4 linked regions of the Homo sapiens genome follow. The protein of the gene in region 2 interacts with the protein of the main gene of each other region in a biochemical or structural test. Each region holds a gene or a part of one and is shown on either strand. Other genes may lie near its edges.

Region 1 (7,025 bases), on a different chromosome or scaffold from region 2:
ACATATCCCCCTTAATCCTACCCTTTCTAATGCTAACAATAAATTAAGAGCACATATTCTCTCCTCTCTCTCTAGATTTCTATAGACACCTAGCTGTGCTTTCTTACAAGAAAACATATCCACTGGACCAAAGCGCAGCCCCCTTCATGCTGAAGCCACTTCAGTTTGAAACGTAAAAAGTAGGTTGCAAACATTTAGTTGGCTCGAAATATATGTCCTTTTGTGATGGTAAAACACACAAACACAAAGTTAATAGTGTCACATATGTAATAGGAGGGTTTGCCAATGGTTTCTCATCTCATTCTCACTCAGACACTACAAATTATAAATTACTAGCTCAATTTTAAAGAAATCGACACTCAAGGAAGTTAGGTGACTCATCTGAGGTCTTTCCGTAATTGAGGGGCAGAGCTGGCTTTGACCCAAGCTTTCTAACTAATACCCCACTGTTCTTTCTGCTGTGCTATATTGCCTTCTGAAGTCAGGCTGTGCTGACCAAGTTTAGAACCTTAAATGGTGTCTTTCAGTGAATGATCAAGATGGTGGAGAAGCCCCCAGCTGGCATTGGTGCCTATTGATTTTACAGAATAGCCCTGCATGTATCATTTTTCATGGTTCTCAGCAAAGGTCAGCTCTCAATGGTGCAACTCTCTGCCTGGAAACAGGAAAGTTCAAATTTCAGCCCTGGAAGAGAGAAGAATGAAACTAGAGGTAGCAGTCAGGTCACTCCTGCTGATTTTCATCTCAGAAAAGTAGGCACACAGGTGAGCCAAACATCTGGTTTTAAAAGGGCTGATTGGTAGGTAAAGTGAAATCGGCCTTGGGGCCATGAATCCCAGGACAGCTTGGAAATGGTTGTAGGCTCCGAGCCACAAATTGAGCCACAAATTCAGCGGAAGCCTCAGAGAGGAAGATTATGATTCAAATACCTCTCACTCTGAGAAGATTGTAGGGAATCCCCTTGAATCTTATCCCGGGCCAGTTTGAACACCTTCAACATGTGGGAAACATTAGATGAAGGCTCCCTTCCAAGGAGGAAAACCCCCCTCAAAGTGTGACATGACCAGCCTCCTGCAAACCCCAGGCCATAATTCCATTCAATGTAAAAGACAGAGATGGTGAACTTACCTACCTTCGGGGGCTATACATGCTTTGTGACTTCTCTGTAAAGGAGAAAAGTCTGCAAACCAACCTGATTCTAATCCTGGTGGCCAGACATTTTTCAGTTATGCCCTTAAGCCTAAACTCCTTTCCCTCCACCTTGTCTCACATTTCCAGCTTCTCTTCCACTTTAGAAACAACCCTGTCACTATCATTACTCTCTTTGGCCCTTCATCATGGAATAAAAGCAAAATGCCCAAGTCAAAAGCAGATCGCGAACGGAAAATCCCTTCCATGTGCATTTTTAGTCTATCTGTGAATGGAGATTTTAAAAATATGTATTTCATGCCACGTCGTCTCAGAATTTTGAAGTTTCCTGAAGTTCATAGGTCCTTCATGATATAGCCATGGTAACTTAAATAGCTTTGTTTGGTCCTTTAACCCTCCTCAAATACCCTATACCAAGAGCCAGAGATATATCATGAGTTCTGAACATAGATAGCTTTGCTTCAGAATTGACCGTTGTTCACCTCTAACCCTAAAGCTGGCTGCTGCTAACTTCGACAAGAATGTGTCTGAAATGTTCTCCTAGGAGAATCCTAGGGGATAATCGTAATAGCTAATATTTACTGAGGACTCTATAGGCATCATGCCATTTAGTCAACCATAGCTTCTAGTAAGTCTTATCACCCACCCTATTCAAATATGCACAATGTAAGGCTGAAAACGTTTAAGTAGCTTACCCAATACCATGCAGAAAGTACTTGGTGGAGTTAAAAATCAAACCCAGTTCCCAGTCCTGAGAGGCTAGTTATAACCATTTCAGTAAGGAAGTCATGCTCAGCTCCCTAATTCTATTCATCTTCTGACAAGAGAGAGGGCTAGACACAGCAAAGCTAAGAAAGACACAAAAGCTTGTCTTTTTGGCCCTGGTGTTCTTTGACAGACTGGTTAATTTTGCTATCTCCAGCTTGCTCCTTCAGGCTTCACCTCTTGAAAAAAACTGTAATTAAATGATTAGCATGTGACCCATAATGTAATACGTTTTCTCTACTAGACTTTAAGCTACATGAGGGCAAAGCCCGATCCACATCACATCCCTGCAACCAGCCTGAGACCTGAAGCATAGACACACATAAGCAAGTGCTGCCCAAGGGAAGCCATGAGTGCCCTGCAGGCTGCCTGGAATCCCCCTGCTCCAGGTTCCAACTGAGCTCTGCACGTCCCCCACTGTCTGTGTCATAATTACCCCTATGATTGCCTTCCCTGCCACACTGGACTGTACACCACTGAGGTCAAGAATGTTAGGGAGGCGGGAGCTTTGTCTGCTGGAGTTCATTTTCCCCAAAAACGGACCCACCATGGGCAGACGCACCATTAGCACAGTCCCCAAAGGAGATGCCCAGGACTGTGGGATGGTCTTGTGAAGGTCGATGCACAGATATTGCAGAGGAATGCTTTAACTTCTAGGTAGGTTACTATTTTCTTAAATCTCCTTAGGGAATACAGAATTTTCAAACTAAAAGGGCTTACGGGCAGCCTCTAAGCCAGAATCTTGCAGACTGGATTTTAAAAAGAATTTAAAAAGATTTGGGGGCTGCTGTGGAGAGACAGGGAGGCCAAGCAGGGGATTCCCCTCAACCTTATTTCAATGAAAGCCCCTCCACTTATCTATTTTGTACACTGAGCCTCCTCATGAAATTTTATTTGATGAAAGGGCTCTGTGCAGAAAAAACAGAATGTTTTTGTAAATTGCTGGCCTAGGTTAGCATACCTCATTTTAAAGAGGGTGAAACTGAGACATAGAGAAGGGAAAGATCTTTCTAAGATCTTCCGCCAGTTGGCAACAGGGTCAGGTTGGAATCCTAGGTCTTCTGACTCTTGCTCTTGGAAGCCAGGGACAATCTTAAAAGTTTCAGAATTAAGACATTCTTTTAGAAAAGAAAAATGAGCAGAGTCTTATTCTCTCAACAGCCTTAACTCACACGGACCGAGCCAAGGATGACTAGTATCTCCGTATTCATTATCTATTACTGCATACCAAATTACTTTAAATCAACACTCATTTATTATCTCATGGTTTCTAGAGGTCTAAGCACAGCTTAGTTGGATTTTCTGCCTCATGGTCTCTCATGAGGTTATTGTCTGTGTTGGACAGGGTTGATGTCTCATCTAAAGGCTGAATTGGGGGATGATTAGCTTCCAAGCTTGTTGATGTGGTTGTTGGCTGGACTCCATTTCTTGAGAGATATTGAACTGAGGGCCTCAGTTCCTTCAAAGCTGTTGGTCCAAGGCTACCCTCAGTTCCTTGCCACATGGGCTTCTCCAACAAGGCCATTTACATTAACAAAGCCAATGAGAAAGAGAGTTACCGGGCATGGTCGCTCACACCTCTTAATCCCAGCACTTTGGGAGCCCGAGGCGGGTGGATCACTTGAGGTTAGGAGTTCGAGACCAGCCTGGCCAATATGCTGAAACCCCGTATCTACTAAAAATACAAAAAAATTAGCCTGGCATGGTGGTGGGCACCTGTAATCCCAGCTACTCAGGAAGCTGAAGCAGGAGAATCACTTGAACTTGGGAGTCGTAGGTTGCAGTGAGCCAAGATCGAGCCATTCCACTCCAGCCTGTGCAACAAGAGCGAGATTCCATCTCAAAAAAAAAAAAAAAAAAAAAAAAAAGAGAGAGAGAGAGAAAGTCTATAAGCAAGAGGCACATCACAATCCTGTGTAACCTAATCATGGAAGGGATATTCCATCACCTTAGTCATATTCTGTTTGTTAGAAGAAAGTCACTGGGCCATCCCACACTCAAGGGGAGGTAATTGCACACGTATGAGAATGCCGGGAGGCAGTATCAATGGGGCCACCTTAGAGTCTGCCTGCCACAGCCTCCAGCACTCCAGTGTCACCAATTTCTGGCAACCTCTTATCAATGACAAGTTCACTCAACCCTTCAGTACCCTCACTGATGAGTAATAAAAAAATTGATCGAGACCATGGTGAAACCCCGTCTCTACTAAAAATACAAAAAATTAGCTGGGTGTGGTGGCGGGCACCTGTAGTCCCAGCTACTCAGGAGGCTGAGGCAGGAGACTGGCGTGAACCTGGGAGGCGGAGCTTGCAGTTAGCCGAGATCACACCACTGCACTCCAGCCTGGGCAACACAGTGAGACTCTGTCTCAAAAAAAAAAAAAAAAAAATTCTGGCAGCCACTAAAGTGGACTAGTTTTTATTTAACATCCTCCCATGTATATAGTGGAGCCAAGTGTTTTGATTAGTTGTTTTAACTCATTGGTTAGCCATAATTTCTCTTGAATTTCACCCCAGGGAGGGGCCTTTCACGGCAATGATTCCAAATGTATTTTATTCTAAAGCAAGACAGTCAGTGTGACCAAAACTAAAACTCATCCATTGTTCCTCCCTCAATCTATTCCTCTCAGCAGATATAATGAATAGTAACATCTTCGATTAATTCTTTTTTCTTTACTAACCCCACACACAAAATGTTGTAGTCTCTACTGCCTTGACAAGCAAATCTGTTCACTGCCTCCCCACTTTCTTGATCACCACCCCCTGCCCCACCTCCATTACCCCTGTAGTTCAGATCTTAGCATCTCACAGATGGGCCACTGCAACAGCTTTCCCACTGGCCCCCAGCAACCCAGCCTTCCCCTTCTTCAACCTGAGACATAGAGGTTAACATTCCTGGGCCTCAAGATTTCCAAATGCTTTTCTTCTGCCTGCAAAAAAGTCCAGATATTCTGACATTCAAGATTCTCCATGATCTTGCTTCTGGTCTCTAAACAGATCCTGTACTTCAGCTGTCATTCATACTGTTCACATCAACCCTTTTATTCTTTTTATATCCTTGTAAATGCCATTCCCTCGTGCCTAGAATATCCTTTTTTATGTTTTTCACCTATTCATATTTTTCTCTCAAAATTCAGTTCAGGCACCACTTCCTCCAGGTAAATTAGATGCCCTTTTACTGTCATCTCATTCTACCTATGTTTCTTTTTTTAAATCTATCATCTCCTTTATCATCCTGGAATGGCCTGTCTGCCCCTCTTGACAATATAGTTCCTAAAAGAAAAAATTGTATCTGGTTTATCTGAAACCTAGCACAACTGGAATAAAGTTAATCTTTAGCAATTAATAGGAGTCCTTGCTGTGTCCCAGATTTGGACATCCTCTTCCTTAGCAGTTTGCTCAGAAAGCCCAGAGCTTGAAGTTGTTTTCACGCTTCACCCACTGGCTTGCAAGTATGCAGTGTGATGACACAACATGTGATAGGAGGAAACCATCCCAGCCCTAGGACAGGAAACTGTCTCAGGACACAGACCTCAAGGAATGTGTTTGCTTTCAGAGGTGGCCTTCAGGATAAAAACACAAATTGCTTTGGATTTGGAAAAACCAGTACCAAGGACAGAGGAGTCCTGTCTGGGGATTTGAGGCTGAGTCACAAGAGATAGCTGAAAATCTGGAGGTTATAACAAAGATTAGTCAACAACTAATAGGAGGAAAGAACAGGCTCAAGGGTGGGATGGAGACAAAGAGCTCTCTATCTTAGGACATGGAGAAGCTCACAGCCCACAAGAAGAAATGAATAATGGTTAAGAGTATGACTTTGGCATAAGAATCCTCTGGGTTTGAGAGGTATTTGCTTGCTATGTGATCTTGGCCAAGTTACTTAGCTTCTTTAAGCTAATTTCTTCTTATCCATATTAAAAGCAAAGTAGTAGCACCTAGTTTAAAGTTTATTGTGATGATTAAATGATGTAGTTCATGAACACTGCTTAGCACAGAAACTGGCATTCAATATAAATGTTTTGTTGTTGTCATTGTTTTGTTACCTGTTGATCAAATAGTTCTTGATGATAAGATCCCACTAGAGAAGCAGTTCCCAAAAGTGTGTCATGTGGAAAAGCATTCTCATGGGAATCACCTAAAAAAGGGTTTTGTGGCCAAATGAGTTTGGGAAACACTTGGTACTCTTCTGTTCTTGGAAATGCACAGCTCATATGTCCATTCAATACATAGTTTTAGGGCTGGTGATACAATAGAAAGCAATACAGTCAAGATCCTTTTATTCATGGTGTTTACATTATGGTGGCATATCTTAGTTTGTACAAGCTGCTACAACAAAATACCATAAACTGAGTGACTTACAAACAACAGAAATTACTTTCTCACAGTTCTGGAGGCTGGGAAGTCCAAGATCAAGATGGCACCTTATATGTCCTCACATGGCAGAAGACATAAGGCAGCTCTATGGGGTCTCTTTTAATAAGGGCACAAATTCTATTTATGAAGCCTCTGCCCTCATGATCTAAGTACCTCCCAAAGACTCTGCCAACTAATATTGTCACACTGGTGATTATGTTCCAATGTGTGGATTTTGAGGGAACACAAACATTCAGACCATAGCAGGGGGAAGGCAGACAATAAAAAGGAATCACATAAACTTATAGCACAATTTCAGGTAGTGATATTTGCTAAGAAGAAAGACAAAACAAGGTAAGGGCATAAACAATGACTGGTGGTGAGAGGAGTGCTCTTTTAGATGGGGTGAGAGGTGAATGTGCCATTGTGCAGATGTCTGAATGAAATGAGAGAAGGAGCTCTGTAGGCAATGGCTAGGAGTTTGAATTTCATTCTGAGTGTGGTTAGAAGCCAATGGATGGTTCAGGGAAGTAGAGTGCATCATCTGAGATATCTTGCTGTAATTAATCTGTTCAACTTTCGTTAGCCCAGTATCTCCAAACATACCTGACCATAGGACATCTACCTAAAAACATCTTGCAACGTAGTCTGGGAAATTCTTCACTGGAGCACAAGGCTTCATAGATTTTAAAGGGACTGCAAATTTGCTCTTGTTCATCTAGATCTGCACTAAAAATCCAAACATACTGCTTGGGACAA
Region 2 (7,025 bases):
TGGCACACAGTAGATGCTCAATAAATGACTCAGTGAATGGATTATTGTACAGCAAACATCCCGTGGACTCCTGCTGGGAAACCTGTTTCCCTTAACTTAAATTGACCTTGGGCAAGTCCCTGATTCCTGTCTTGGGGCTTAACCTGCATGCCCCCAAACTGGGAACTGGGGACACAGTGTCTTACCACATAGTTTATGGAGTCAACCAGTCATCCCCTTTCAGAGGCCTCATTTCTGAAAATTGATAAAAGCTAACAACAACAACAACAACAAACTGATTGGTGGTGAGGCAAGTGAATTCCACATCTAGGTAACTTCAATTTCATTCATTCAGCCAAACTCTTTTTGTTGTTGTTTGAGACAGAGTCTCACTCTGTCACCCAGGCTGGAGTTCAGTGGTGTGATCTTGGCTCACTGCACCTCTGCCTCGTGGGTTCAAGCGATTCTCCTGCTTCAGCCTCTGGAGTAGCTGGGATTACAGGTGCACACAACCACACCTGGCTAATTTTTGTATTTTTAGTAGAGACAGGGTTTCACCACATTGGCCAGGCTGGTTTCCAACTCCTAGCCTCAAGTGATCTGCCTGCCTCGGTCTTCCAAAGTGCTGGGATTACAGGCATGAGCTGCTATGCCCGGACATTCAGCCAAACATTTATTGAGCACCTACACTGTACTGGTCCAATGCTGAGGACACAGAGCTCTCAGTTGGATAAGCCAGAGCAAAGTGTTTCATTTCATTGTCTTGTTCAGCCATTTCTTTCATCCCTAAATCAGAATTTGAATCACAGTGAGCCTGTTACCAGGGCTTCACATCCTGGCTTACATGTCACCTCCTCCAGGAAGCCTTCCAGGACCACATTTCCAGGCCAGGCAAGAACCACATTTGGGCCGGGCGCGGTGGCTCATGCCTGTAATCCCAGCACTTTGGGAGGCTGAGGTGGGCGGATCACGAGGTCAGGAGATCAAGACCATCCTGGCTAACATGGTGAAACCCCATCTCTACTAAAAATAGAAAAAAATTAGCTGGGCGTGATGGCAGGCGCCTGTAGTCCCAGCTACTTGGGAGGCTGAGGCAGGAGAATGGTGTGAACCCGGGAGGCGGAGCTTGCAGTGAGCTGAGATCGCGCCACTGCACTGCAGCCTGGCGACAGAGTGAGATTCTGTCTCAAAAAATAAATAAAATAAAATAAATAAAATAAAAAATAAATAAATAAATAAAAAAGAACCACATTTGGTCTCCCATTGCTGCCTGTGCTTCCCTATTAGCGCATGCACTTAATTCCTAAAAGGCAGAAACTCTCTGTCAGCCTTCTCCACACCTCCTGCCACCTCCAGGGCCTAACCCTGGGCATGAAGAGTGCTATCTTTGGAGTCAGATCTCTCTGAATTTGAATTCTGGTTCTGTTTCTTATTTGCTGCGTGGGCCTGGACCTGTCCCTCAACCTTTCTGACCCTAAGTTTCCTCCTCTAGAACAATCAGATTTGTTGTAAGAGTTCAATAAGATAATGCTTATAAATGCTTTTCTTTTTTTTAATGTTTTAGTTTTTTTGAGATGGAGTCTTGTTCTGTCTCCCAGGCTGGAGTGCAGTGGCTCAATCCCGGCTCACCGCAACCTCTGCCTCCTGGGTTCAAGCGATTCTCCTGCCTCAGCCGCCCTAGTAGCTGGGATTACAGACGCATGCCACCATGCCCAGCTATTTTTTGTATTTTTAGTAGAGACAGGGTTTCACCATGTTAGCCAGGCTGGTCTCGAACTCCTGACCTAAAGTGATCTGCCCACCTTGGCCTCCCAAAGTGCTAGGATTACAGAAGTGAGCCAACATGCCTGAACGGCCGTAAACGCTTTTCACATTGTAAATATTTGCTAACTTGTAACCCTTTATGGCCATTGTTATCAGTTTCCTCATCTGTAAAATGGGGGCATATGGATCTTGCTCCCCACCCTCGACCCACACTGTGCCTGGCGCTAGGTCTATTATTATCAGACAGGGGTGGGGAGTCATTCTGCAAGAGGTAGGTCTGTTCTTGAAGATTCCAGCATAAGTCAACTGTCCCCCCATCCTGGATGTTCCCCCACAGGTGTTGTGTTCCACTACCGATCAGCCCGGGACCGCTATGCACTGACCTTCGCTGAGGCCCAGGAGGCCTGCCGTCTCAGCTCAGCCATCATTGCAGCCCCTCGGCATCTACAGGCTGCCTTTGAGGATGGCTTTGACAACTGTGATGCTGGCTGGCTCTCTGACCGCACTGTTCGGTGAGGGGGATACACAGGGCAGGGAGATGAAGACTAGCTCATGGGGAAGGAGGTTCCTTGGGGGCTCCAGGAGCACACATCTGAGAGGGACCCTCCCCTTGTGTTGTCAGGTATCCTATCACCCAGTCCCGTCCTGGTTGCTATGGCGACCGTAGCAGCCTTCCAGGGGTTCGGAGCTATGGGAGGCGCAACCCACAGGAACTCTACGATGTGTATTGCTTTGCCCGGGAGCTGGGGGGTAAGTCTGGGACTGGCAGGACCCGGCCCCTCCGCCTCTCTTTGAGTATCTATTATTCTCCCCAACTCCCATCCTCCGGGGTCCTTATGCAACTCCCCTGTCTTATACCTCCCTAAACCTGCAACCAAGACATGATTCCACTCATTTTCTGAGCTTTCCATGCCTCCCTGAGTCCCCCTCCCTCCCTTTGCCCCCTTCCTCTCTCTGATCCTCTTTCCCTCTCTAATCCCCTGTCCCCTGCCTGCCTCCCTGTCCCTATCCCCTTCCTCCTCTGTGAGCCCCCTTCACCGAGCCCCTCCCTCTCTCTGAAGCCCGACTTGCCCATGGGCCTGAGTTACTCCATTTGTAAAAAGAGGCTTAGCTCTGCATGAGAGGTAAGGACAAGGATGATCCCGGAGCTGGACGCACAGCTGCGGTTGTCACCGCCTCTTCTAACCACCACCCTAACACGTCCAGGTCGGAACTATTTGGAGTTGGACCCACTTCCTGGGCTCCAGGGGAGGGTTCCCCAGCCCCCCTGACCTCCACCCGCCCCTCCCGCAGGCGAGGTCTTCTACGTGGGCCCGGCCCGCCGCCTGACACTGGCCGGCGCGCGTGCACAGTGCCGCCGCCAGGGTGCCGCGCTGGCCTCGGTGGGACAGCTGCACCTGGCCTGGCATGAGGGCCTGGACCAGTGCGACCCGGGCTGGCTGGCCGACGGCAGCGTGCGCTACCCGATCCAGACGCCGCGCCGGCGCTGCGGGGGCCCAGCCCCGGGCGTGCGCACCGTCTACCGCTTCGCTAACCGGACCGGCTTCCCCTCACCCGCCGAGCGCTTCGACGCCTACTGCTTCCGAGGTGCGTGCGTCCCCTGGTGGCCGCGCCCCCAGGGCTTTCACTTTGGCGAAGGCCACGTCCCTGAAAGCCTCGCCAAGCCAAGGGAGAGACACATGGAAGCTCGCTTTGTGATAAGCCACATCCCTGGGTGAGGGCCACGCCCCCGGGTGAAGGCCACACCCGTTACGACAAGTCTTTCCCTAGGAGCCCCGTCCTGGGTAAAGAACAGGGCTCCAGAGGAGGCCACTCTGGTGGGGAGTCACCTTTGCTGGGTGGGCTGTATCTCCTGAGGTCCGGAGGCCCCATAACCTTGAAAGACAAGCCCCTAGGTGGGGCATACTCTACCTAGAGCCACGCCCATACGCAGAAACACCCCCGTGGAAGAGATAATGCCTCAATTGGCCACCTCTGGGCACCACACCGGATGTGGGAGCAGGGATGACACTCGCCCTTGTTGGGGGGCAGTGGGGACAGCTTTGGAAGCTGCAAGCATCAACCCCAAGGAGCCATGTCCTCTAAGTAAGCTGCCCCAGTCCTGGCATGGGCATACCATGCCCACGGGGCACCACCTGTACCAGGGGAGGATCCGTCACCAAGGTTGAGTTGAACCCCTCAACAGGCAGACCCAAGTTCATGAGAGTTGGACACTACCTGAGCTTTGCCCATGAGCCAAATTGTCTTTTTTTCTTTTTTCTTTTGAGACAGAGTCTCACTCTGTCACCCAGGCTGGAGTGCAGTGGTGTGATCTCGGCTCACTGCAACCTCCACCTCCCTTGTTCAAGCAATTCTCCTGCCTCAGCCTTCGGAGTAGCTGGGACTACAGGAATGTGCCACCATGCCCAGCTAATTTTTGTATTTTTAGTAGAGACGGGGTTTCACCATGTTGGCCAGGCTGGTCTTGAACTCCTGACCTCAAGTGATCCACCCACCTTGGCCTCCCAAAGTGCTGGGATTACGGACGTGAGCCACCGCGCCTGGCCCAAATTCTCTTGAGTCCTCACTGCAGCCAGTTGACTCTGACCCTGACAGTGGCTCAGGTGGTCTCCAGCCTGAACAGTGGAGGTGAAAATTTTGCACTTCCCTCTCCCAGGCTGGGGGAATCTCAGAAACTACTTAGGAGAGACAGAGGTACACAGAAGGCTTATGCTGCAGCATGCTGGAAAGTGGGTAGACTTCAAGCAGAACTTCCCAGGCAACCCCTGGGCCTAACACAACCTCTTCTGCTTTCTCCCACAGCTCATCACCCCACGTCACAACATGGAGACCTAGAGACCCCATCCTCTGGGGATGAGGGGGAGATTCTGTCAGCAGAGGGGCCCCCAGTTAGAGAACTGGAGCCCACCCTGGAGGAGGAAGAGGTGGTCACCCCTGACTTCCAGGAGCCTCTGGTGTCCAGTGGGGAAGAAGAAACCCTGATTTTGGAGGAGAAGCAGGAGTCTCAACAGACCCTCAGCCCTACCCCTGGGGACCCCATGCTGGCCTCATGGCCCACTGGGGAAGTGTGGCTAAGCACGGTGGCCCCCAGCCCTAGCGACATGGGGGCAGGCACTGCAGCAAGTTCACACACGGAGGTGGCCCCAACTGACCCTATGCCTAGGAGAAGGGGGCGCTTCAAAGGGTTGAATGGGCGCTACTTCCAGCAGCAGGAACCGGAGCCGGGGCTGCAAGGGGGGATGGAGGCCAGCGCCCAGCCCCCCACCTCAGAGGCTGCAGTGAACCAAATGGAGCCTCCGTTGGCCATGGCAGTCACAGAGATGTTGGGCAGTGGCCAGAGCCGGAGCCCCTGGGCTGATCTGACCAATGAGGTGGATATGCCTGGAGCTGGTGAGTTGCTCTGGGGGAGGCGGGACCTACCTGGGGATCTGGAGGTGAGGGTAGAGAGGTAGCCATGGCTACACTCAGAATGAGGGAGGAAGCTCCAAATCCCAGCTGGGTCCTCTGGCCCCAGAAGCCCCCTCTCCCTTGGGCCTGGAGTCCAACCAAAGGGGCTGCTGAGAGATCATTGTAATGATTGCCTTGATGTTGTTGCAGGTTCTGCTGGTGGCAAGAGCTCCCCAGAGCCCTGGCTGTGGCCCCCTACCATGGTCCCACCCAGCATCTCAGGCCACAGCAGGGCCCCTGTCCTGGAGCTAGAGAAAGCCGAGGGCCCCAGTGCCAGGCCAGCCACCCCAGACCTGTTTTGGTCCCCCTTGGAGGCCACTGTCTCAGCTCCCAGCCCTGCCCCCTGGGAGGCATTCCCTGTGGCCACCTCCCCAGATCTCCCTATGATGGCCATGCTGCGTGGTCCCAAAGAGTGGATGCTACCACACCCCACCCCCATCTCCACCGAGGCCAATAGAGTTGAGGCACATGGTGAGGCCACCGCCACGGCTCCACCCTCCCCTGCTGCAGAGACCAAGGTGTATTCCCTGCCTCTCTCTTTGACCCCAACAGGACAGGGTGGAGAGGCCATGCCCACAACACCTGAGTCCCCCAGGGCAGACTTCAGAGAAACTGGGGAGACCAGCCCTGCTCAGGTCAACAAAGCTGAGCACTCCAGCTCCAGCCCATGGCCTTCTGTAAACAGGAATGTGGCTGTAGGTTTTGTCCCCACTGAGACTGCCACTGAGCCAACGGGCCTCAGGGGTATCCCGGGGTCTGAGTCTGGGGTCTTCGACACAGCAGAAAGCCCCACTTCTGGCTTGCAGGCCACTGTAGATGAGGTGCAGGACCCCTGGCCCTCAGTGTACAGCAAAGGGCTGGATGCAAGTTCCCCATCTGCCCCCCTGGGGAGCCCTGGAGTCTTCTTGGTACCCAAAGTCACCCCAAATTTGGAGCCTTGGGTTGCTACAGATGAAGGACCCACTGTGAATCCCATGGATTCCACAGTCACGCCGGCCCCCAGTGATGCTAGTGGAATTTGGGAACCTGGATCCCAGGTGTTTGAAGAAGCCGAAAGCACCACCTTGAGCCCTCAGGTGGCCCTGGATACAAGCATTGTGACGCCCCTCACGACCCTGGAGCAGGGGGACAAGGTTGGAGTTCCAGCCATGTCTACACTGGGCTCCTCAAGCTCCCAACCCCACCCAGAGCCAGAGGATCAGGTGGAGACCCAGGGAACATCAGGAGCTTCAGTGCCTCCGCATCAGAGCAGTCCCCTAGGGAAACCGGCTGTTCCTCCTGGGACACCGACTGCAGCCAGTGTGGGCGAGTCTGCCTCAGTTTCCTCAGGGGAGCCTACGGTACCGTGGGACCCCTCCAGCACCCTGCTGCCTGTCACCCTGGGCATAGAGGACTTCGAACTGGAGGTCCTGGCAGGGAGCCCGGGTGTAGAGAGCTTCTGGGAGGAGGTGGCAAGTGGAGAGGAGCCAGCCCTGCCAGGGACCCCTATGAATGCAGGTGCGGAGGAGGGTGAGTACAAAGTCCCGGGGCTCTGTCCAGCTCTCCATGGTCAGGGCTTGGGGAGCAGGGGCTGGGGGATCCCAGAGCAGGGAGGAATGGTTGTCCCTGGGGATCTGGAAGCTTTCTAGTGGGGCATGACGCTGGAGGTAGGAGCTTATCAGGTGGAGTTGAATTTCAGAAAGGACATTCCTGGCAGAGGAACGAGCACTGGCAAAGGCCAGGAGATGAAGTAGCGCTTGATCAATTTCGGGCACAGAGCATACATCCCAATGAACAAAGTGTGAGAGTAGTGAGTGGCCGGGCATGGTGCCTCATGCCTGTAATCCCAGCACTTT
Region 3 (7,316 bases), on a different chromosome or scaffold from region 2:
TAGGAAGGCAAATGCAGACAGGGCATTGAGATCTTCCTTCCAGCACCCCTGCTAGGTCAACTTGGCTTCTCCAGGCATTACACAAATCATGGCCTTCCCAGGCCCCACATCTTGGCTCCTGCCACACCACATGCCCCCATGCCAGAAACACATTCCCCACCTCCTCTCTGTCCATCCAGGCTCAATTCAAGATGCACCCACCCACCCCCACTGAAAGCTTCACCCACATCCTACCTCCCTCTCTCCTCATCCTCTGAATGGTTACTATAGCTACTCTCCTTCATTCATTCACCCAGTCAACAAATATTTATTGAGTCTCCACCATGCACCAGGCACTGTGCTAAACAGGAGGGTGGGGGACTGGGAGAATACGGACTGATGAGATAATCCCTACCTTTTGGACTGCATAGCTGAGGGAATGGCCATCAGTATTTGATATGGCACTTTGCAATTCAAAGTGCTTTTAAAAACCATTATGTTTAATTCACATATCCTCACTACCATCCTAGATAGGAGTAGGATCATTCCTATTTTACTGGTGAAGAAATGGATTATCTGGGCGATTAAGTGTCATTCTGTTACTTGCCCAGAGTCATCCAGGTAGGAGTGACAGAGCTGGGACAGAGTCCAGTTCTCTTGACTACAAATCCAGAGCCACCCCAACCACTTGCAGCCCTTACTGCTCTGCCTCATATCCTTGTTTTACAGATGAGGGAGGCTAAATCCCAAAAGGGAAATACTGACATTTATTGAGCACCTGCTGTGCTAGCTACTTCACGTGTAACTCAACACTCACATCAACTCAGTGAGGTATGTGTCTTCATCCCCATATTCTGGGTGAAGAGGTATGTGGCTTGCCCATGGCCTCACATCTCCTCAGTAGCAGGACTGGGTGTCAAACGGGTCTGTCTGCAGAGCTTTTCCTTATGGCCATATCAGTTTTCCCCAGAGCTGTGGATGGACAGTCCTGTTACCACTGTCACACTGCTTCCAAAAAGGTCACTGGCACTTTGAAGACCGCATCCCCTGGCTCTTGGATCCCTACATTCCAGGCAGAGGAGCTGCTCCATAAATACATGGCCTCCTGGGAAAAGGGTCTGGGCAAAGATGCTGGTGGCGGGAGAGGCCAGGAAAGGAGAGGTGAGGCGGGGGAGTGGTGAGGAAAGAGACAGCAAAGCTGCAGCATCCTGGGGCCATGGCAGGGTCTCATCTCCTCCCCACTTGTCCCCAGGGATGGGGCCTAGAGGTCCCTTCTTGATCGGTTAGAGACCCACTGGATTCCATTGCTATCAATCTTGTGTGGCTACAGTAGGAAGAAGCAGATGGTCTGGGCAGGGTTGGGTGGCCCTCAAAATGCTTTCTGATCCCCACCCACCACCACCAAGGGAGCACCACATGTTTGCGGACAAATTTATAAGCCATTTGACTAGCCACCTGATTATCTTCACTGGCCCTTTCTTGCCCTGTTTGAAAGTCTGTGGGGACTCAACTTTGAGATGTGGAGTCCCAGCTCTGGACAACATGGAGTCATATTGATCAGCCACAGAAAGGAGAGGTGGCCCTTATGGTCAGCTGCACTGAAGATTGTGGGCTCTGGATGTCACCAAAGAAGAAGAAACTGTTCTGCCCCCTATTTTGCCCACCTCAAAAGAACAGACAGTAGGTAGCTGGAGTCCATGGCACGGTGGCTAAGCCAGGATGCTGGAGGCCGATCCCAGGCCTCACTCTGTCATCTAGGCTGGAGTGCAGTGGCACGATCACAGCTCACTGCAGGCTTAACCTCCCAGGCTCAGGTGATCTTTCTACCTCAGCCTCCTAGGTAGCTGGGACTACAGGTGTGCACTGCCACACTGGCTAATTTTTGTGTGTTTTTTGTTGAGACGGGGTTTCGCCACGTTGCCCAGGGTTCCACTTGTTTACTATTTCTTTTGAGCAAGTTCCTTACTCTTACTGAGCAACATCTGAAAAGTGAGGATAATAACAACATGGACCTCTTGCGCAAGTAATTCAGGTAAAGCATTTAGCACAGCTCCCGGCATGTGGGAGGCATTCAAAACAGATATTATTTCTGTTATTATCAAGCTAATGGGCCCCACAAGCAAAACTCAGCCTGCACCCCCAAATGCCCACCCCACTCTCTCCTCAGGAACAGGAGCATCTCAGAGACTGGGAGTGCAGATCCCCCTAATCTCCCCAAACTCATTCATACTAGACTTCACTGAGAGCTTCAGACAAGTGAGAAGATGAGACTTTGGGAACTGTCTCCCCATCCAAGTCTAGGCTTGGCAAATGTTCTTGTTTTCACTTATTGTGTCTGCCAGAGTCCACATGGAGCATGCTGGTTGCATTGAGATCTGAGAGTCTTTAAGACCCAAGTCACCTGTGCTAACGACCCTCCCCAGAGACCCAGCTCCCACCACAGGGCAGCAGCTGTCCTAAAATAGAGTCACAAAGACAGCTGTCTCCGTCTAAAGCAATCCTTGCAAGCATTTCCAGACTGTTGGTTCCTGGGCCAGCCTATTTCCTGGCCCGTCAGCCCCCTGCAGCAGACATAGCATCCTTTTCTTGGCAAGGACTTGTTCCTGCCGTTTTCTGCTAGGAGAGAACTTGCAGAGCCTCTCTTTGGAGCCCAGGCTGACTTGAATGGTGCCAAAGAGCAAGGTTCACCTCAGGAGCTCAGAGCCAATGTGCCAGCCCTCAGACATACAGATAGGCAAGGACAGTGTGGGCAGGGGAAGGAAGGGAAAGATATCCTGGCAAGGGGTTGATGTGTCTGTCTATATAACAGCATTCAACATTATTTAAGAAACATCATTAGCAAAATCCAAGTCCTCCCCATCAGGAACAAAGAAGACTATCTCTCAAGTTGGGCAAGCCCTTTGGAGGGGCTCAGAAGGAAAGGAGGGGAGCGCATGTGGGACCTGGGCAGACATTCCAGCCTTGGAGGCTGAGCAGCAGAACCTCCCCGACTCCTTCTCCTTTTCCAGACCCTCTCATTCTGGCCCAGGTCCCCAGGACCTCCTCCACTCAGGGAGACATGGAGCCATGATCCAGGCTTGACAGGTATAGCCATTTAAAACTGGGAGGCTGGCCTGGCCCTGCCAGCTGTTGCAGCATCTGGACTGCTCACCGGTCTTGCCTGTGCAAGCTGGACAGCAGGCAGATCAGAGGGGGGTGAGACAACAGTGACAGCCTGACAGGGCCGACTGGTGCCGCAGATGGCTGGTCCCTCCGCCTCCGGGCCACAGCCTTCCTGGGCACTCCCCCACGTGACCGGAGCAGGGCAGGAGAAAGGCATCGCTGACAAGGGTGAGCACTTAGAATCTCAGAGCTGGCAGGACTGTGTCCATCTTTAATCCCTTCAGGTACCAGCGAGGCTCAGAGAGGGCAGGGCACCTAGCCAAGCACACACAGCCAGTCGGTTGTGGAGCCCAGAGTATGCTTCAGACACCCAGACCCCTAATCCAGGGAGCTTTTCATGACATCACACTGCTGGTTGCTTAAAAATGGGATTGGATCCAAACGTACTGATGCGTAAAAGTGTCCAAGATCAGTTACACAGTTAAAAGTCTTTGGCCAATCCTACTGTTTTATGTAATCACATTTGTGTGAAATAACCCTACTAACCCATGTAATTGTATACACGAAAATAATAAACCTGGGGGCATGTACTTAGATTTATTAAGAGTAGTGGTTGAGGGACTTTCACTATGTATTTTTAAATGTCCTCTAATATTTAGATATTTTGACAAAAAGCTCAAACTACTTTTGAACAAGGGAAACAATAAAGAGGAACATGGGGTGGACCGGGCAACAGAGACAGCCCCTCCCTGCCACTTGCCCCACACAGCAAGCTGGGATTTCTGATTTGGATCTCTTCCTCGGATAGGGGATTTCTGGGGAAACCAGGAGTTTTGGCTCCATGGGTCTCCAGGGTTTGAGGAGTAAGAGCCACTTTCTTTTCCCTCTTCACCCCGCCCCTCTCCTGCCCCTTCAGCCCTGGGCAGGGGGACTAGAAGTGGGGCTGGGCAGGATCGGGAGGGCAGGCGGGCCAGACAGCGCCCCGCGGCCTGTCCATGAGCGGCCCATGCATTATGGAAGACGCGCGCTGGGCTCGCTCCCTGGTCCTTAAATGACAGCAAATGAGGTAAAGCCAGGAGGGTGGGGACGGAAGTGGGGTGGGAGGGGGGCAGAAGGAAGCCATCTCCAGGGCCCCCGAGCGTTGGCTGAGGACCAGAGCCAGCCAGTGAGCGGAGCCTGGGAGAGGGAGGAGCACATCTTGATGCAGAGATGCTGCAGTGGCTCCGGGCGCGCTCACACACACGCGCCCTCACCCGCCACCGCCGCCGCGGCCGCCGCCGCACCCGGACAGCGAGCGGCTGAGGCCGCCAGGGCCCAAAGGACAGCGGCCCAGACAGGGGCTGGCGGCCCGGCCGGCCCCGGCTCACCGACTCGGGCAGCATCCACCTGCCCCAGCCAACACCCTTCTCTCGCCCCAGGTAGGTGCCAACCGCTTTTGTCTCCTCCAACCCAGGGACTTCCCTGCGTGCTGTTATGGGCCGGGGCTCCCGGCTCAGTTCCTGTAAATATCCCCCTTGTAACTTGGGAGGGAACAGGGACAGGAACACTGGCAGGCTGGGGCCGTTCTGACTTCTCCCCTCAGCCCCAGGGTGGGTGCTGGGGCTCCCCTCCGCCCTGTCTACGTGGGCGGCATCCCGCAGGGCTCTCTCAGGCCGAGCCTGGCCGAAAAGCTGGACCCCAGGAGTGTGTCCAGGAATTCCAGTTGGCCAGCGGGCAGTGGCAGCTGCCTGTGGAGAGGGCAGTTTCTCCTGGGCCGGCCCTGGGCACCCGGTCCAGGACAGGACCAGTCCATACAGCCAGGCCCTGGGCCCTGGCCTGCCCCAGAAGTCCCTGCATGGAATTGAGCCGGAGTCCCCAGTTTTGAGGTCACCCAGGGTCTACCTCTGCAGGGTGACCTCTTTGCAAAGTCTTGCTTCAGCTGGATGGAGAGGGGGGCTGTGGAAGAGAGAGGGGAGAGTGGAGCACAAGTTTGGGCAAGGGCCTGTCCAGGAACTGGGACTCGGGGAGGAGAGTCCTGAGGCCAGTCACATCCCAAAGGGCGAGAGGCTGGGGCTACCGGGCTGAAATTCCTTTCCTTCCCTTCCCCCTCCCAACCTTAGCTTCTCCTCAAATCCCTCCCCCCCATCCTCACTGGTGGGAGGGAAGAATTTGCACAAAGTTTGGCTTTCCAGTAAGGAAAGGGGCTGGGGCCAGAATGGTATGGGGAAGGGAAGGGGCAGAGCTGGGGAGTTCTGGAAAGAGAGGGCAATCCTTCTGCCCAGCACCGTGGGGCTTACATAATGGGCTGGAGGTGGGGGGCAGCCCCAGCCAGTGAGTGTCCAGAGCTGAATCCTGTCACCTTCTCCAAGAGGGTCTCTCAGGTCTGGGAAGCAGCGGGGCATGGAGAAGGCAGTGCCTATGGAAGGGGAGAATCCTGCTGCTACTTGGGGATGGAGACGGGCACCCTCTAGCCCCAGACCCCTGGGGGTTGAGCCTGTGTCCTGGGGGGGGGGGTCCAGTGAGGCCAGGAGGGAGTGGGGTTGTGCATGCCATGGCCCCAGCCCTGGAGAAAGGTGGGTTTCAGCATCTTTTCCCTCTGCTCAGAAGGAGCTGGGAGGAGGAACAGCCCAAGAAACCCAGTGCACAGGTGATGTTCTGGTCTCGTCTGGGCAACAGTTTCGGCCTCCTCTCCCAACCGTCTGGCCAAAGACGCCTCAGCTCACTTAGCCTCCGAGTCTCTCTACCTCCTGGTCCCACTCAGAGGGGCCGGATGAGCCACTGGAGATCGAGTGCAGCAAAAGGTGGGCCACCTGTGGGAGAGGCTGCTGTGATCGCACCTGGACAGGGAGATGGCCTGGAGGTCACAACAGGTGCCCTCACTCCTGGCCTTGGGAGAAGGGAGCTCTCCCCTTAAAGACAGCAGCATCCAAGCCCCTCCCCAGGGTGCCCACCAGTTAACCCCTTTCTAGCCAAGCTGCAGAACCATGGACAGGGCTTTTGCCACAAGGTCAGAGTCCTTCCTAATCTCCCGTGGAAGTCCTCAGCGAATAAGAGGGAGGCAGGAGGTGAGACAGACAGGAAAGGGCCCCTGACCTGATGATGTCAAAGTCACCCAAGGTCCACCTGCCTCACAGGTGCAGAGACCACTGTGCTCACACCATGAGCGGTGAGGGAAGCAGAGGCACACTCCTTATGCAGATGAGTGCCTCAGACTCCAGGAGTCTGCTCTCATTCCCGGCTCTTTCTCTCTTACTCTCCTCCCTTCCTCTACTCCTTCTTTCCTCGCACTCCCTTCTCTCATCGCGTGTACTCCACCGGCTTCAGCCCTCAGCCTCCCGCCGCCACCATTTCCCCTGCCAGATTTCACTCCTTATGCAACTCCATTCCAGCACCTTCTCTGCCAGCAGTTGTTCAAATAGAGACACATGTGGGATGGGCCTCCGAGGAATTGTGCTTAACGGGGTGATTGCACATCTCGTCTCTGGCTGACCAAACTTACTCCTTAGGAGCATGTACATAGACAGGTGTACCCCAAGGCATCCTTTCTGCCTCTAAAGTCACCAGGGAAGCAACGCATTTGGGGTGGTTTGGAGGATGCATGGTGCCCTCTTCAGAAACCTCCTTGAGCCAAACGTTGGTGAGAAAGCGTATTTCAAAGACAATCTCTAAGCCTGAGTGTGGGTGGTATTTGTATTTTTGGAGGGATTCCTAGGGCAGAACCAGGGGGTTGGAGAAGAGGTGATTGATATGCAGGGGAGGAAGAACCAGAGCAAAGAATATGCCAGGGAAGCCAGAGGGACTTAAGTTAGACTGCAGGAGACACTTCCTGGCTAGAAGAGTGAGCCATGAGGAGGTGGGGCAGTCTCCTTTCAGATGACTCTAAGGATGGTGTGGAGAACTGGGGTCTGGTCCAAGGTTAGAGAGTCCTGCCTAGAGGCAAAGGTTGGGCTGGCTGACCCTGTAAATTTCTTCCAACTTCTAGTAATCCTCTTTCAAATGGTAAAAGGTGGATGTGACTCAGGAATCCATAAGAAGGCAGACATCCTTTTCATCCCCTCATGCATGCTGGCCACCCCCTCATCCTTCAGGACTACAACCCCAATCTAAACAAACCACCCAGAGGCTGTTGCTAACCTGGAACATTTATGGGAGTTTCTGTGGGCTCCGTATCCTGACGGTAACCATCCTAGAGTAAGTCCTTTCTTAGTTTGATGATTCCTTGCTACAAGATTAGCCCATGTTTCTTTGTTTACCAA
Region 4 (7,025 bases), on a different chromosome or scaffold from region 2:
TTCATCAGGCCGTGGTATCCAGGACTTACTGTTTTGGCTTCTCATAATTTGCAAGATAATCAGGAATGAGTCTTTATTTCCACTTGCCAAATCAGATATTGGCTCCCAGGGTAATCTGATGACGATAACTTATTAAACCACCAAAAATGTTGGCCAGTGGTGTGCTGTTAAATACCTAACAACCTGGCTCCCTAAAGGAAAAAAATTTAAAAGCCCCGTTGTGTAGCATTTGCCAGTTTCCATGATGTAAATACTCTCTCCATGGCCAATTTCAATTACCAACATGACGTCAGTAAACATGGAGCTGGAAACAGATGTGTAGTAGAGTACAATCATAGAATATTTTCACCAGACAGAGCACACATAAATTATCTTAAAGGTACACATAATAGTAAAATGTAGTCAAATAATTTGAGAGTGATAAATTTTGAATATCTATTACCTTTATTTTTAATATAATTTACTTAAGTATTAGGTTATAAAATTGAATCTTTAATAATGGCTGTATTCAACGACAGTCTTGAAACAGTCCTGAAAATTTGACAATCAGCATTTACAAGCCAGTAGGAGCTGGCTCCAGTGCATGTTCATGACCTTATAGAGATTGGGGTACTAAGCACCAAAAAGACAAGAGCCTGCTCACAAAGGAAGTTACAAATCACTTAAAGCCATTGAGCCCAGCAGGACATATAGACATGGCATGGGGGGTGAGATGTGAGGAAGAAAGTTGAGTCCAGGATGGGGAAGGCAATCCTCTGAGCTCATGCTATCTGTGTATTGCCTCCCGGTAGTTGCCCCTCCAGAGGACTTGCGAGTGGCTGGTATCAGCGACAGGTCCATTGAGCTGGAATGGGACGGGCCGATGGCAGTGACGGAATATGTGATCTCTTACCAGCCGACGGCCCTGGGGGGCCTCCAGCTCCAGCAGCGGGTGCCTGGAGATTGGAGTGGTGTCACCATCACGGAGCTGGAGCCAGGTCTCACCTACAACATCAGCGTCTACGCTGTCATTAGCAACATCCTCAGCCTTCCCATCACTGCCAAGGTGGCCACCCGTACGTACCATTTCCCCGTCCTGCTTCATTTTTCTTTTCTCCTACATGAGATCATGGGCATTCATGATAGTAGCGTCTTTTCTTAGTTCTTCAGGGATGCCTGGAATAGTTATTGCCCTTGAGGGGAAGGGCTAGAGATGTGACCCATTTAGAAAGGGTACATCATTAAAAAGGCACTTTCGATTAAGAGAGTTTCCAAATTCAGGCAGCTTTCATAAATTATAGAACCAAAAGGACAAAAAGTACTTTAATTATGGAGTACTGGCTTGTTATAAGCTAGACTCTGACTAGAAGTCAAGGAAAGTGTAAGACATCTACAGACTTTGAATCAGTTAGGGATCCAAAACAAGGAGATATGAACTAGGACCTCTAAGAAGCAAGTGCTAAATGGTGTGTTCTCGACCATAAGTGTATAGCAAAGTGAGAAAAAAATCTTATTTAAAACCACAGCTGACAACATCCCCTTCTCCTGATAGAGAGGTGGCATAATTTCCTCCTGGTCTTTTGTTTAGTGAAATATCTTAATAGTTCATTTTAGTTATAAAAGTTGAAGCCCTAGAGCATAATTTAGAAGGATTCACAGGGAAGAAAGAGAGAGATGGAGACAGAAAGCAATCTAAACTGCTCTCCATAAGAAATGAACAGTTTTTTTTATACATAAAGGGAAACTTCTGTGGGTGTGTACCTATATTTTGTGTATGTTCAAGCATAGAAAAATATAAAAGATTACATAACAATTATTAACACTGACTACATCACAGAGTAGAATAAGAAGGAGATAGGAAATAATTATTATATTTTTCTTTATACCCCTCTGAATTCTTAAATTGATACAATAAGCCTGTTTTAGTTTAGAATTTCAAAAGCCAGGCAGAATAATTTAGGCAAGAGAAGTTCTCATCACCCCAAGTCTACTGCAAAACCTGCATGCACACAAATGCCTCTGTGCCTTATGTGGAAAGTCTTTGGAGAGATCATGAAAAAGGGGCTGTATCTGATTAAAATCTGGGAAGAGAGAAGAGAACATTCAAAGGAGATGAGGTATGAGTGATACAGAGATTTTTAGCAATACCAAGAAAGTGGAACAAGAAGTAACCATGAAAACATAAGCCCTCTAGAATTCAGAAAGCCCCCGGGCCAGTAAATAGGACTTACCACCAGATAAGGGGTAAGAGATCTGAGCCCATTTTGTGTAGGTAGATGGTATTCAGGTAACAAATGCCACGAAAGTTCAGAAAAGGAAAAGGTCAAGGTAGAAAGATTTAGCCTTGAAATCTTCATGGAAGCTCCAGGACTGAATTGACCTTTGAAGGATGCAAGGATAGAGACAGGCAGAGGGGAAGGAATTTAAGAAGTCATCTTGTCCCCTTGCTTTTCAGGTGACAGAAATTCTGCTATAATTTTGGACTCCGCTATGAGAAGAGTGCTGACTCTGTTAATATGCCTATAATTATCTCTGTTTATATTTGACCTTTTTTTAAAAAAAAAATCCTCTGGTGCCTGAGAACTGGTTTTAAATATCTGCAATGATTGTGCAGAGAGGCAGGTCACCATCTGCCGCTTTTCCCACCTTGCTCCGGGATGAGTCACCACCCTAAGTGCCTGGCCTAACTCCCAAGCGTCTCCTCTCTGATCCACATGCATGCACAGTGATGAGGTTTCCATCTCCTGTGGCATTTATTATGCCAATTCAGGGCATTCCCTCAGGCAAGCTCCCAGGTGACAAGGACAAAATCATGTAAACCACCTGACACAACTTCAAGTGGGCTTGCAGTCAGCCCTGCCTTCCAACCAAGAAGCATGAGAACTCTTCCAAACAGGAAGGATGAGAAAATCTGTCCTTTTTCCAATGGGAATAGCCCATGAGAGGCAAAGCTAAAATGGGAGCAGGCTTCCTGGAGAACTGAGAAAAGTCATGCTGTCATATTTCAGGGCTGATAATTGAAACTCCATTAGGACAAGCACACTTCCATCTCACAAAACCTGTGCATGTGTATGTGACTGTGTGGTTGGGGGAGAAGGGGTGGTGGGAGGAAAAGAGGGAGATACATGAAATGAAAAATTCAGACCATCCTAGACTTAGTGATTTGAGCTAAACAAAATACTCTCAATGTGCATCAGATGATCAAGGAAATCACTCTAGTATTAATTCTGAAACTGGTTTGCTCCACAACTTTAGCCAGCTTTCTCTGTGCCTCTCTTTTCCTGTGTGCAAAATGAGAACACTGATAGAAGCCATCATAGTACCTCCCGGGAGTCCTGTAAAGCTTCTAAAGATACTGCTCAAGTCCTCTGAAAAAGGCACTGTACTATATATGATATGCCAAGATCTACCACATTAGTAAGAAAAGAAAAATGATGTCTGCATTTTAATAGTAACCTATTAATGCAATAAAAAGCATTAAAAATTGTTTATATAGATTGTGTTTAAGTTAACTCATGTATTCCATCAACATCGAGCACTAGAGCCACATGGGGTGGGTTGATTCTGCACCTGGGACTCACTGTGTCTGGAGCAAGATTGGGATTGTCCACCAGACACCACCACGCCCATGGCGTGGAGGGAGTTCACCAAGACAAAGCACCAGGCAATGCTGTCTGTCCCAAGGGTTAGCCATGACATTGTCACCTACATTGCTGTGTTCCAGATCTCTCCACTCCTCAAGGGCTACAATTTAAGACGATCACAGAGACCACCGTGGAGGTGCAGTGGGAGCCCTTCTCATTTTCCTTCGATGGGTGGGAAATCAGCTTCATTCCAAAGGTAACACTCACCTGTTACACTGCCAAACAGACTTATTTGGAATATTTGTACCTTTAGCTTGGAATCAGGGGCAGCAAGGAAAGTGCTACCCAATATCTCTCTCCATGCCATTAAAGACACAAAATGGCATGTTGTGGGTGTCTGGGATATAGAACATTTCTGTGACAAATATGTGGTAACGACCTGCTGACAAGAGTAGCCCTGAGCATGGCACCCTGGCCTTGCAGAACAGAGGATGTGGGAAGCAGCCACCAGCTCCAGCTCTCTGCTGAGATAACTCTGGGGTCTGATGAGCCATAGTTTTGGTGAGCATGAAAACCAGACCCTGAAAAAATTGAGGCTTCTCTTTAGGACATAAGAAAAGCCAGGCTGAATCCATCACATAATCAGCCAAAAGCTTCATTCTGTGCAGACAGATGCACCACAGAAAAGTCAGCTTGCATGGCATCAATCCCTAAAGGTTACAGACATAAAACAAAACACCTTGGCTCTCCTGGATTATTCATAATACATTTGTATCCTATTAATTTAGCAACTTTTTTATTAGTCTATGACTTTTAAAGTATCCTAAGATTCCTTTCTACTCTCTAAAGCAGTATTTTATTTATTTTCTTAATTCTAAAACTAACTTTTCCGAATTGCCACAGGTGTATGCCTGGCTCTAAATTTCCAGAATTTGTTGACCCTACCAATGTCCTCCCTAACTGTACCACTCATGAGGATATAAAGTTCAATTATACTCCTTCCCTCTGTCTTTATTCTTCAACATCAAAGAACATTTTTTAGCCATTCATCAGACTTAATGACAAATGACACATTTTTGGCTAACAAGACCATGATTTCACCATTCTTTTACTTCAAAATTCTTAGAGCTGTGAACTGTTGGAGTTACAAAAGACCTTCAAGTTCACAGGTACGACCCCTCATTTTACATCTAGTTTAGTTTAATTTATAGACACTACGATTCAGAAAACTTGAAGGACATCATACAGCTAGTTGGTGACAGGCTTAAAACGAGTACCTGGGTCCCCACCACCTATCCCGGGGCTCTGTTCACTAAATCTGTATGCCCCATTTTCTTATTTACAGTCATATTATAGTCACATCACAGCAAGGTAAATAAATCTAAACAGACATCTATACAAATGTGTCCTATTTGAGTTAAAATGATAAATAAAATGTGGCAATTGAGTTACATAACAATTGAAACGATCATGTCAATTGGAATGGAACATTGCTACCAATGTTTTTCAGGAAGAAAAATTACGCCAGGTTCTCCTGTTACCTATACCCAATATGTAAAACTCTAATTAAAAGAGAGGCTGACCAGGGAATGCCAAGGTCAAATGCATGGCCACATGGTTTAATAACTGTTGTGATCTGTAGGTTGAGGCCACTGGGGAGCATTCATCACACTGATTTATAAGAGTATGACTGTAAATTACATATAAGGCACCCTGGGTACCATAAATAGAGGCCAAAGAATAGGGGAGAATGGCAGTGCCCTCCAAAAGAGGCCCTCTTGTCTCCTCCATTTCTAAGGACACTCATAGAAAGTATATGGAGGGAAAGAGAGAGAGGGAACGATAAGATAGAAAGATAGATAATAAATCCTAGATTCAATTTCGTCAAGTTACTCTTTCTCATTCCCTCTCCCTCTTGTCTCCTTCTTCTCTTCTTTGTATTATCTTTTTCCAAGCTTCCTTTTTCCTTTCTTTGTACTTCATATGTGGTTGTGTCACTGAGTCCTAATTCATCTGGGTGAAGGGGAAACAAGACATCGACAGATTCACACCGAATGTAGCACCATGAGAAACTCCAGATATAGCAAAATATTAGCTCTGGCTCATAAACAATTATCTCATAGCAATGTCTTAGTTTGAAATGTGTTGTGTGTGTATATAAAGATGTTTACACACAAACACACATGACTATCCTCTCCTAAATAGCCGGGGGCATGTTCATTACGATAAATGCCAAAAACCTCTGATGAATGTTAACCGCAACCATCAAACATTTGATCTTTGGCAAGAGCCAATCTGCACCACCTCATCACTAATTTTTATTGGCAAACTCAGCAAACTCAGGAGTGGCCAAAGAAATGTTCTTAAAAATTGATCCTCCATTTGCCAAATCCTCATAGGGTGGTGTCATTCTTATGGAGTCTATGGGGAGTTATTTCTGGCCCCAGATACTCAGCTGTCAGCATGGAGGAAAGAGACATCGCCCCCATTTTAAATTCACAATCCACAATTAGTATTCCACACCTTTATCTTTCTCTCATCAGATTTCTCTCCCAGTGACTTTTCTCTTTTGCTCTCTGCTTCTCCCCACTGTCCAGAACAATGAAGGGGGAGTGATTGCTCAGGTCCCCAGCGATGTTACGTCCTTTAACCAGACAGGACTAAAGCCTGGGGAGGAATACATTGTCAATGTGGTGGCTCTGAAAGAACAGGCCCGCAGCCCCCCTACCTCGGCCAGCGTCTCCACAGGTGAGTGCCTCCAACCCTTCTCCCTAGAGCTGCCTACTAGGTCACTTGGAAAAGAACCACAGAATTGCCCAAGGAGTGGAGAGACAACAGAGGTGCTAGAATTTCTCCTAGAGCTGGGACAATTCTGGTACCTGGCAATGGAGCTACTCTACCAGATGCTTAGCTCATCATCTTCCCTATTACTCATCCTTACAAATACTGTCATCTGGGAGAGTGTTTCATGGAGACAATTCTTTTTTAATATTTCCATTGTATTTATGCTGATCTTACTCATGAAGAACACTCATTTGTCAGCCTCTGGTGTCAATGATCTTTGGAAGCAGCAAGAGCTGACTCATTCTTACCTATGATGATATTTGGAGAAAGTCATCTGAACCTTCCCAAACTTCAATTTATTTTACAAGATAAGCAAGAATAATTTATGATAAACAAGAATACCTTCTTCATTAAGTTAATATGAGGATGGGATTAGATAAAGCACACAAAGCAATCAGCTCTGTGCTGATGAGAGTGAGTGCTCAATACTTGGTATACGCACATATACTCAGAACATACTCAGAAGTGAAAGTGGTAGGAAACAAGTCATTCAAAAATAAGTAGGTATGGGTTGGGTCACTGTTCAAGGTGATGGCTTAAGTCTATTATTATTTCATCCCACAGATCACCTCATTCAAGATTATTATATTTCCAGGATTGATTCATTAATTGTCATAT

The links.
Region 1: the proteins of NCAN (region 2) and TNC interact in far-western blotting, tested with the Homo sapiens proteins (one study listed by BioGRID).
Region 3: the proteins of NCAN (region 2) and CNTN2 form a complex in vitro, tested with the Homo sapiens proteins (one study listed by BioGRID).
Region 4: the proteins of NCAN (region 2) and TNR form a complex in vitro, tested with the Homo sapiens proteins (one study listed by BioGRID).

Annotation. Positions count from the first base shown.
Region 1 is NC_000009.12:115,108,157-115,115,181, reverse strand, and holds part of TNC (tenascin isoform 1 precursor), read left to right. Parts: exon of another isoform or gene 1-179; intron 180-3,630; exon of another isoform or gene 3,631-3,753; intron 3,754-7,025. UniProt on the Homo sapiens protein: Extracellular matrix protein implicated in guidance of migrating neurons as well as axons during development, synaptic plasticity as well as neuronal regeneration. Promotes neurite outgrowth from cortical neurons grown on a monolayer of astrocytes.
Region 2 is NC_000019.10:19,221,941-19,228,965, forward strand, and holds part of NCAN (neurocan core protein precursor), read left to right. Parts: intron 1-2,080; coding exon 2,081-2,255; intron 2,256-2,365; coding exon 2,366-2,493; intron 2,494-3,036; coding exon 3,037-3,330; intron 3,331-4,545; coding exon 4,546-5,133; intron 5,134-5,340; coding exon 5,341-6,699; intron 6,700-7,025. UniProt on the Homo sapiens protein: May modulate neuronal adhesion and neurite growth during development by binding to neural cell adhesion molecules (NG-CAM and N-CAM). Chondroitin sulfate proteoglycan; binds to hyaluronic acid.
Region 3 is NC_000001.11:205,038,896-205,046,211, forward strand, and holds the start of CNTN2 (contactin-2 precursor), read left to right. Parts: upstream 1-4,316; 5' UTR 4,317-4,499; intron 4,500-7,316. UniProt on the Homo sapiens protein: In conjunction with another transmembrane protein, CNTNAP2, contributes to the organization of axonal domains at nodes of Ranvier by maintaining voltage-gated potassium channels at the juxtaparanodal region. May be involved in cell adhesion.
Region 4 is NC_000001.11:175,390,574-175,397,598, reverse strand, and holds part of TNR (tenascin-R isoform 1 precursor), read left to right. Parts: intron 1-791; coding exon 792-1,055; intron 1,056-3,703; coding exon 3,704-3,819; intron 3,820-6,160; coding exon 6,161-6,311; intron 6,312-7,025. UniProt on the Homo sapiens protein: Neural extracellular matrix (ECM) protein involved in interactions with different cells and matrix components.